Linked DNA regions of Homo sapiens. Changing the gene in region 2 together with the main gene of any one other region gives a genetic interaction. Each region holds a gene or a part of one and is shown on either strand. Other genes may lie near its edges.

What was found. Genes that interact genetically often act in the same process or in processes that back each other up.
Region 1: changes in FRS2 (region 2) and RB1 together harm fitness more than expected from each alone (negative genetic interaction), as found in Homo sapiens cells (one large-scale study listed by BioGRID).

Annotation. Positions count from the first base shown.
Region 1 is NC_000013.11:48,474,751-48,479,214, forward strand, and holds part of RB1 (retinoblastoma-associated protein), read left to right. Parts: intron 1-1,699; exon of another isoform or gene 1,700-1,772; intron 1,773-1,950; coding exon 1,951-2,093; intron 2,094-2,604; coding exon 2,605-2,654; intron 2,655-4,464. UniProt on the Homo sapiens protein: Tumor suppressor that is a key regulator of the G1/S transition of the cell cycle. The hypophosphorylated form binds transcription regulators of the E2F family, preventing transcription of E2F-responsive genes.
Region 2 is NC_000012.12:69,475,821-69,481,248, forward strand, and holds part of FRS2 (fibroblast growth factor receptor substrate 2), read left to right. Parts: intron 1-4,478; exon of another isoform or gene 4,479-4,539; intron 4,540-5,428. UniProt on the Homo sapiens protein: Adapter protein that links activated FGR and NGF receptors to downstream signaling pathways.

The DNA.
Region 1 (4,464 bases), on a different chromosome or scaffold from region 2:
TTTGCTTTGAAACATTTATTCTAGGCTGCAAATCCACAACCCTAGTTGGCCTTCCATTAAAGTCACTAATTCAGCAGTCCCATATTCAATATGCATTACTGTTAATATGTTGCACCATCTCCATTCCCCTGAGAGCTTATATTTTTAATTTTTAAATTTTTATTTTTAGAGACAGTGTCTCACTCTGTCACCTACTTATTATAACCTCAAACTCCTCGGCCCAAGCAGTCCTCTCACCTTAGCCTCCCAAGTTGCCAGGACTACAGGCATGCACCACCATGTCCAGCTAATTTTTAAATTTTTTGTAGAGACAGGGTTTTCTATGTTGGCCAGATTGGTATTGAACTCCTGGCTTCCACGATACCCCGTCTCAGCCTCCCAAAGAACTGGGATTACAGATGTGAGCCACTGCACCTGGCCAGAGAGCTTATATTCTTATAGGAATGGGAAGACTGCCTATGTTATGTGTTGCTACATAATACATTACCCCCAAACTTAGTGACTTAAAACAAACGCTTATTATCTCCATTTCTGTGGGTCAATAATCTAGGCATGACTTAGCTGGGCCAGAGTTTCTCCAAAGTCTGTGATCAAGGTGTCAGTTGGGCTGGGCCTGCAGTCATCTCAAGGCTCCACTAGAGGAGCATTCACTGGCAGACTTATTCAAATGGCTGTTGGCTGATCCTCGATGGCTATTGGCCCCTCTATTGGTTTCTTGCCCTTGGGCCCCTCCATAGTACTGCTTGCTATTCACAACATGGCAGCTTGCTTTGCCCAGAGCAGGGACTCTGAGGGAGGCAGGGAAATAAAGAGCAAGAGAGAGGTCACAGTCTTATTGTAATCTAATTCTGGAAATGACAGCCCATTACTTTTGGCATATTATTTTGGTTAGAAGCAAGACAACAGTAGATCTAGCCCACACACGAGGGGAGGAGGATCACACAAGGAGGTGAATACCAGGAGGTGGGGTCATTGGGAGCCATCTGAGAGGCTGCCCACCACACTGCCTCAAGTAACTAGGGAGAGGTAAAAGTTTATATGCCAGATGACCAAATATTAAAATGTGTGTTACAAATAGTTCACGATGGGCTCAGCTGTCAGACTTTACAAAGGAGCTATGGGACCTTATAAGGACAGTTGGAACTGGCTAGGTATCACATAGTGGTCTTCAAACATTTTTGCTTGCCATAACCTCTAAAATAATTGGGAAAAAGTTGAATGTACTTCCATATCTTAAAGCTGATAATTTAAAATATTATACATTTAATAGCAGCACGGGATTTAGTTTTTGTTAAATTGTATATGTGCTCCAAATAGATTTACCATCAAAACCTGTTTTGAATTTAATATTGGGAGAATTCGCTAGTTTAATTTTTGGAAAATAAAGTATAATTGGCAAAGCTAATCCTCACTGTTGAATCTATCCGTCAAATCAGATATAATTTCTATCAGAAAGTCTATATGACTTGTCAACATAATACCCATAAAGTGAATCAAAAATTATTATTCATTGAACACATCATCTCTTATCAAATTCTTGTGACCTTCCTTCTGGTTGTATAATAGCCTAAAAAACAAAAAAAGGACAAAAGCAAGTTTCCAGAAAGCTGTTCTGACTTGCCTACTTCTGAAAAGTAGTCCTGTATGGTGGGTTCTGAAAATGAGGAACCAGGACTTGCAGAGTAGGCAGTTGCTGGAGGAAGAATGTGAGCTGCATGGGAAAAGACAGGAGGATTTACAAAGAGTGGGTGTTTAATTGGGGATGGAATTAGGTAGTTATTCTGATTTTTAGATTTTTCATATCTTTTATTTGGTCCAATGAAGCAGAAAATTTAAATGAAGTTATTACCTTTGCCTGATTTTTGACACACCTCAAACTATAACTTGAGGTTGCTAACTATGAAACACTGGCATTTAATGATTTAAAGTAAAGAATTCTGTAATTTGTAGACTTCTGAGAAGTTCCAGAAAATAAATCAGATGGTATGTAACAGCGACCGTGTGCTCAAAAGAAGTGCTGAAGGAAGCAACCCTCCTAAACCACTGAAAAAACTACGCTTTGATATTGAAGGATCAGATGAAGCAGATGGAAGGTAGGAACCAGTTTTGAATGTTTTCCAGTAGCCGAGATGGTCATCTGGGGAATCCAGAGTCTCAGCACTGCTCCTGGCTTATACCAATTTCTTTCATGCCAAGTTTATTTGGAAGTTGTGAGAATGGCTCAAAATAATAGATATGAGTGTAGTGCAAAGTTAAAAACATCTTACAAATTGCATACCAACATTCAGTGAAGATATCTAATAAACCCTGATCTTTTTTACAAAGCTATTGATAAAATTTTGTTATTCTTAACATTAAATTTAAAAATGTTTACTCTTGAAAAATATTAACCACTGTATTTTGTGAGAACCACTGAAAAAATACATAGCATCATAAATTTGTGACATTTATGTTTTAGATGGTTAGTTTTTAAATTTTAAAATTAAAAGCTACTCACTAAAATAATAGCATAAAGTAAGTCATCGAAAGCATCATAGTTACTGGAAATTTGAGTTTTCCATTTATAAATACACATGAAATGTTTTGCATTTTTTTAATCTGCAGTAAACATCTCCCAGGAGAGTCCAAATTTCAGCAGAAACTGGCAGAAATGAGTAAGTACTTTTTTCACCTTGTGTAAATGAAATAAACAATTGTTTACACTGCAAGAAGTCTTTTCGTTATATAAAAGAATGTATAATTTCTTCAGTTGGCAGGTTTGTTTATGCATTTAAAATATAATTCAATCAAGGTTATTTATCTACAAACATTTGTGGATTAAATGTATGATGTAAAATGAAGGTCATTTTTACCCTTTCTATGATCTTTCATGCAGGAAGACTAAGAAGTGAAACATTGCTTGACCACATTCAACACAAATGGCTACAGTTAGAAAATACTTTAGCAGAACTACAAAGAGGAGCTATTTGGGAGTGTTAGATATAGGGAAAAGTTTTATAAACCTAGCATATGTAAACATCATCACCCTTATTTAAGGAATAACCTTTGATTCTACCATTTTTAAACTTTCCTTATTTGCAAATCTTAAAACAATTTCAAACAAAAGTTTCCATTACTGGAAATCAGAATTTTAATAAAGAACACTTATGTCATTTTCCAAGTTATACAGAGTGATATCATGTTAGGGTAAGTGGAATTCTATTCAAAACTACTCTGAGACTAGACAAAAAAAATAATCCAAGGATAGTAGATGGAAAGCACATTAGGAAAGAGATAAATGTTCACTAACTACTATTGGGTTGTCTTAGGTAGTTATGGTAGTGAGTGTAACATTTCCCAGTATCTGCTGCCAGATCCATTGATAGGAAAAGGAACTGGGATTTTGAAAGAAGACAAATATTCAGGAGATAGGTGTTAAAACAATCATTCCTAGGTCACAGGACACACTAATGAGAACAATACCAATTAAAATGAGAGGCTTTCTTTTAATACATCTTTGTAGATACTAACTTTGAAAATAAGATATTTAAAAGGATGCTTTTTTTCTATGTATTTTTTTAAAGTGTAATTAAAACTAAATAACTAAAACAAAATTTTCTAGTTATAAATGAATCTCTTTTTGGATTTTATGTCAACTTACATATTCCTATTTTAACTCTTAAATAGTTGCATCTTTTCCCCTCAGTACATGAAAATAGACAAGAGGCTCATAACCAAAATCAGGCCTTGAAGACATATGGAAACATTTTGGAACCCACAAATATGCACTTAAAAAGGAGCTGAAAGCTGTAAAAACATGTATATTTTCTTAGAGAAGTGTTCAGTTGCTATAGTTAGTACATTTCCCAGTGACACACTTAGCTATGATGGCGAGCTTCCTCTGCCAGGCCAAAGTTCAGGACCTTTGTGCATCTACAAAATTGTGACAAAGCAGGCAGAATTTTAACCCCTGAGGCTAAGGCATTTCTTTAGGATGCTCTTCAGCTTTTCTTAAAGAATTACATTTAGAAAAGATCATCATACAATGCTGGATTGCCCAGAATGGAAGGGCATTCCATTTTTCCAAATGTGCTTCTTTATAAAGAACTCATGCCTACCTCTAAAATCAAGTTAAGAATTTTTAAGAAATTTAATAAGTATCCCGGCTTTGTCTATATTGTAATTCATAATATGCTTTTAACATGGCCATGCCCCGGGTAGGCATGATGGCTTATGTCTGTAATACCAGCACTATGGGAGGGCAAGGTGAGAGGATTGCTTGAGGCCAGGAGTTCAAGACCAGCCTGGGCAACATAGCAAGACCCCATCTTTACAAAAAAATCCAAAAATTAGCCAGGCCTGGTGGCATGTGCCTGTAGTCTTGGCTACTGGAGAGGCTGAGGTGAGAGAATTGCTTGAGCCCAGAAGGTCAAAGCTGTAGTGAGCCATGATCATGCCACTGCACTCCAGCTTGGGCAACAGAGC
Region 2 (5,428 bases):
TGACAGAGTTTTCCTTTGAGTGAAAGGAGAATGTAGTTGGCTTCTTTAAAGCTAAATCTATTGATATGTTTTTCTAAAATTATCTTTTGCCATTTTCGATGGGCGCTTAGTTCTTTTATGAAATAGTGGTGATGGGTAATCGGTAGTTTTTGTTTTTGTTTTTTAAATGTCCTTGGCAGAATAAAAGTTGGCAGCCCTATGCTGGTCACCCTCTCCTTCCTCGTGCCCCTTTTTAAAGATTATGGTTCTGTGAAATCCGAAAATCTTGGCTTAAACAGAATCTGAGGGATTGGAGGAGACTATTCATCCACATATTTATGCATATTAAAGAAGGTTTGGGGTACATTCTGCCCTTGTGTTAGCCTACAGAGGACGTATTGTGATTCTCGCCACCATTGAATTTAATTTTGTCAAGATTCACAGTCAATACTTATAACATATTTCAAGGAGCAGTTCAGACTGTTTTCAGTTGAGTTCACACAAGTAGCTCTAAATTACTTGTTTAAGACTGTGTTTCTCAACCAGAGCCTCTGGAGAAAACTGTTGAACTGTGGGCGCTGCCTGGGGGTGCTGCTTTAAGTTATTACTCTGTTGATTAGCCAACAAGATAAATAACTCGCCTTTGACATAGTGAAGCAGCAGAAATTGGCTTTCCATTTCACTTCTTCTGCAGGAAAGATAGAGCAAGAAAAGCCTTTTTATTAATACAGCAAGTAAACCTTGTACAAATATCAGTATTCAAAATGCTTTCTAGAGAAAGAATAGTGCAGCACTGTGCGTAATGGGTTATGTAAGTGGAGTCACAGAAGTCCTCCTGGGGACACAAACCAATTATGAACATAAGTGCTTATTGAAATTGCATCAGTTGTCTAGATGAGGAGCTTATTGACTCCCTGGTTCACTTGGGTGGGCAGGCGGCTGTGGGGGAGGGACGGGGGGGGGTGTGGGGGTGGGGAACTTAAGGTGCAAACCTAGCCTAGGTGACTGTTAAATTAAGGCTTAACATTTGTTTCTTTTGAGTGTTTTTGGTTGCGTAATTTTAAAAGTTGGGAATGCTATAGAAATATTTAAATTCTATTAGAATGTCCAAGGCAAAATGTTCAGGTTAAGTAGAAATAGCTTGGACCCTCTGTTAATTTTAAAGAAAACTGTGGGTTTGCTGCTTTAGATATTAAAATGATATGGGTTTATAGAGTTATGTTGTGTATCATTGTTGCTGGTAAATAAAAAATGTTTAATTCATTTATTTTAACAGTGCTTAAATTTTTCTCTTAAAGTACTCCCAATGGCAGAAATGTGGATGAATAGTACCCTCAGAAGTCTAGGAATGCAGCCCAAAGTGTGCCTGCTATAAATTGAAGTTTTTGATGCCTGTAGGGTTTTATATTTTAAAATTTATATAAATGTTGCATTTTGCTATCTTACATGCATGTCGACAGTATTTTAAAATACTTTTTTTTTTTTTTTTTTTTTGGTTTGAGACGGAGTCTCGCTGTGTCCCCCAGGTTGGAGTGCAGTGGCGCGATCTCAGCTCACTGCAAGCTCCGCCTCTCCTGGGTTCACGCCATTCTCCTGCCTCAGCCTCACCAGTAGCTGGGACTACAGGCGCCCGCCAACACGCCTGGCTAATTTTTTGTATTTTTAGTAGAAACGGGGTTTCACCGTGTTAGCCAAGATGGTCTCAATCTCCTGACCTCGTGATCTGCCTGCCTCGGCCTCCCAAAGTGCTGGGATTACAGGCGTGAGCCACCGCGCCCGGCCTAAAATACTCTTAACTAAAATTGATGCTCCTAAGAGAGAGTGCAGTGTTCATCCTGCGGCTTTTTATATCCCTATGACATGGCTTTATCACTGGTTAGTAGTACTGTGCTTAAATATTTAATAGTAGCTTATTTATTTATTTATTTATTTATTTATTTATTTATTTATTTATTTTTTGAGACAGAGTCTCGCTCTGTTGCCCAGGCTGGAGTGCAGTGGCATGATCCTGGCTCACTGCAAGCTCCGCCTTCTGGGTTCACGCCATTCTCCTGCCTCAGCCTCCCGAATAGCTGGGACTACAGGCGCCCACCACCACGCCCGGCTAATTTTTTGTATTTTTTAGTAGAGACGGGGTTTCACCATGTTAGCCAGGATGGTCTCAATCTCCTGACCTTGTGATCCGCCCACCTCGGCCTCCCAAAGTGCTGGAATTACAGGTGTGAGCCACCGCGCCCGGCTGTTTATTTATTTTTAAACCCTGTGTCTGATGGTTTTTGTTGGAACATAGGAGATGGTAAACAATTTCTGATACTTCCTATGTATTTTTAATAAATAGCAAGCTGTTTTAAATACTACTAAGAAGCTGTAGTTTCATAGAAATAAAATGACTTTTAAGGGGGATTTAATCCGTTAAAATTTTTTTTTCTATTTAAGATTTTAAAATTATCAATGTATTTCTATCATAATAAAATATGGTAGTACTAAGAGCTTTCTGAAATGATGGAAATGTTCTATGTCTATGCTGTTCAATATGGTGGCCCCTATATAGCTTCTGAGCACTTAAAATATATCTAGTGTTATAGGAGAACTAAATTTTTAATTGAATTTAATTTTAATTAATTTAAATATGAATACCCACATGGGGCTGGTGGCTACTGTATTAGTGCAGCTCTATAAGGTTAGGAAGACGAGAGAGAAGAGAGATCACACATCTTCATGACACCTCTCACCTCACATGTAGGCAGATTAGGCACTCAGTAAGTATTTGTTGAATGAAATAATTCATCTTTTTCTTTGAATTTTGAAGACCAGTGTTTGTGAAGTATTCTAAATTTTTGGGGAGGAGCCATAGATTTTTGAATTTTTTTCTTCTATATTGATTTTCAGAATTTACTTTTATTCTTACAAAGACATACATCATTATGTGTGTGTGTGTGTGTGTGTGTGTGTGTGTGTGTGTGTAAAGAATTATATAATGAACTACCATGTATGACCAACCACTTTAAAAAACAGAACACTGCCAGCACCTTTGATGGCCGTTCATGTTTCTCACTACTTGTGATCTCTGACATACTCTTTAAGTAACCGCCATCTGAATTTTATATTAATCATTACCTTGCTTTTTGTTTTAATTTTATATGAATGTCTTTTTTTTTTTTTTAACATTTCCCTCTGTCTTGAAGTTTGGAAGTTAAACTCTGTGTAGCTTTATTTTAGTTCTCCCTGACCTCCAACAAATGAGATACTTTTGTTTTAAACACTGTTACTTTGATTTGCCTATACACTGTATTTGCAGATGTCTGCTTATTCTCATTTGCATCTGAGACCTCTGATCTAGGACCATTTTTCTTTGTGTGAAGTACATCTTTTAGAATTTTCCCTAGGGAGGGTGTGTTGGAAAACTTTTTGTTGGAAAATAACTTTTTCTTAGTCTCATTCCTGAAACTGGTTTTCCTGAATATATATTCTAGATTAGCAGTTGTTTTTTCTTTGTTCATTATAGATTTTATTTCATTATCTTCTGGCTTTTATTGCTGTTGAAAAATACACAGTGTGATTGACAGTCCTTTACAGTTAATCTGTTGTTTCTTTTTTTTTTTTTTTTTCTTTTTTTTTGAGACCAGTCTTGCTCTGTTGCCAGGCTGGAGTGCAGTGGCGCGATCTCAGCTCACTGCAGCCTCTGCCTCCTGGGTTCAAGCAATTCTCCTGCCTCAGCCTCCTGAGTAGCTGGGATTACAGGTGTGTACCACCACGCCTGGCTAATTTTTGTATTTTCAGTAGAGATGGGGTTTCACTATGTTGGCTAGGATGGTCTCCATCTCCTGACCTCATGATCCACCTGCCTCAGCCTCCCAAAATGCTGGGATTACAGGTGCAAGCCACTGTGCCTGGACTAATCTGTTGTTTCTTTATGGCTAGTTTTAGAACTGCTACTTTGTTCTTGGTGATCTGCATTTTCATTTTTATGTTTGGAAGTTGATTTCTTTTTATTTATCGTGCTTGGTATTAACTAGGTTTTCAAATCTGAAGATTAGTGTCTTTCAACAATTTTGGAGAATTTTTGGCCTTTTTCTTAAATTTTGTCTTCCATATTTTCTGTTTGGAACTTGTATTTGAAGTATGTTAGATCTTCTTACTCTACCTCCGTGTCTCTTAACCTGTCTTTTATATTGTCCATTTCATTATCTTTGTGTATTGTATTGTGTTCTGGATACTTTTCTTGAAGTTAGCTACTTCTCTCTTCAGCTGTGTTCAACCAGTTTATTGAATTTAAAAACTTTTTATTTAACTATTATGCCCATTTTTTTCATTATGGTTAAATACATATAACATAGAATTTACCATTTAACCATTTTTAAGTGTACAGTTCGGTGGCATTAAGTGCATTCACATCATTGTGCATCTGTCACCACTACTGATCTCCAGAACTTTTTCATCATCGTGAACCAAAACTTGTACCCATTAGACAGTAATTCCTTATTTCCTCTTTTCTCTAGCTCCTGGCAACCACTATTTGAGTTTCTGCCTCTACAAATTTGACTATTCTAGGTACTTCATGTAAGTGGAATCATAAAATATTTGTCTTTTTGTGTCTGGTTTATTTTACTTAGCATGTTTTCTAGGTTAGTCTATGTTATAGCATGTTCTTTGAGTTTTACAAATTTATGTTAGAGATGGGGTGTTGCTATATTGCCCAGGCTGGAGTGCAGTGACTCTTCATAGCGGCGATCATAGCACACTACAACCTCAAATTTCTGAACTCAAGCCATCTTCCTGTCTCAGCTTCCCAAGTATCTGGGAGCACAGGCATGTGCCACTGCACCTGGCCATTGGGTTTTTAAAAATTTCATTTACTATATATTTTTGTTTCTAGACATTTTATTCAGTTCCTTCTTAAGACTATCATCCTTTTTTTGGGTAGTCTTATTCCTTTTCTTGGTTATGTTCTCAATATTTCTTTTATTTCTTAAAAATCTATTAAATATACTTACTTTACATTTTGTGCCTGATAATCCAGTATCTGAAGTCTTTGCAGACATGATTCTGCTGTTTGTTTCTGCTGGCTGTTGCTTATGGTGCCACGCCTTCTTGTCTTGTAATTTTTGACTGTGAAGTTCTCGTAACTTTATGTTAGTTTTGCAGAGTGATTTTTAGTAGTACTTAAAAATTTTATTCCTTAGAGCTTATAAGTAACCGCCTGGAGAATAGTGTCCTATTTTCTTAAACGTTTTATTTTGAAATAATTTCAAACTTACAGGAAAGTTGCAAGAATAGTGCAGTAGACCTCTGTATACCCTTTATCCATAGTCACTAATTTTTAATATTTTGCCATATTTTTCTTTTTGCATACACACATTTATTTTTTTGTGAACCATTGAAGAGTAGATTGTATGCCTTTTACCTCAGGGTGTATTTCCTAAGAATAAGAGTATTCTCTTAAGATAAT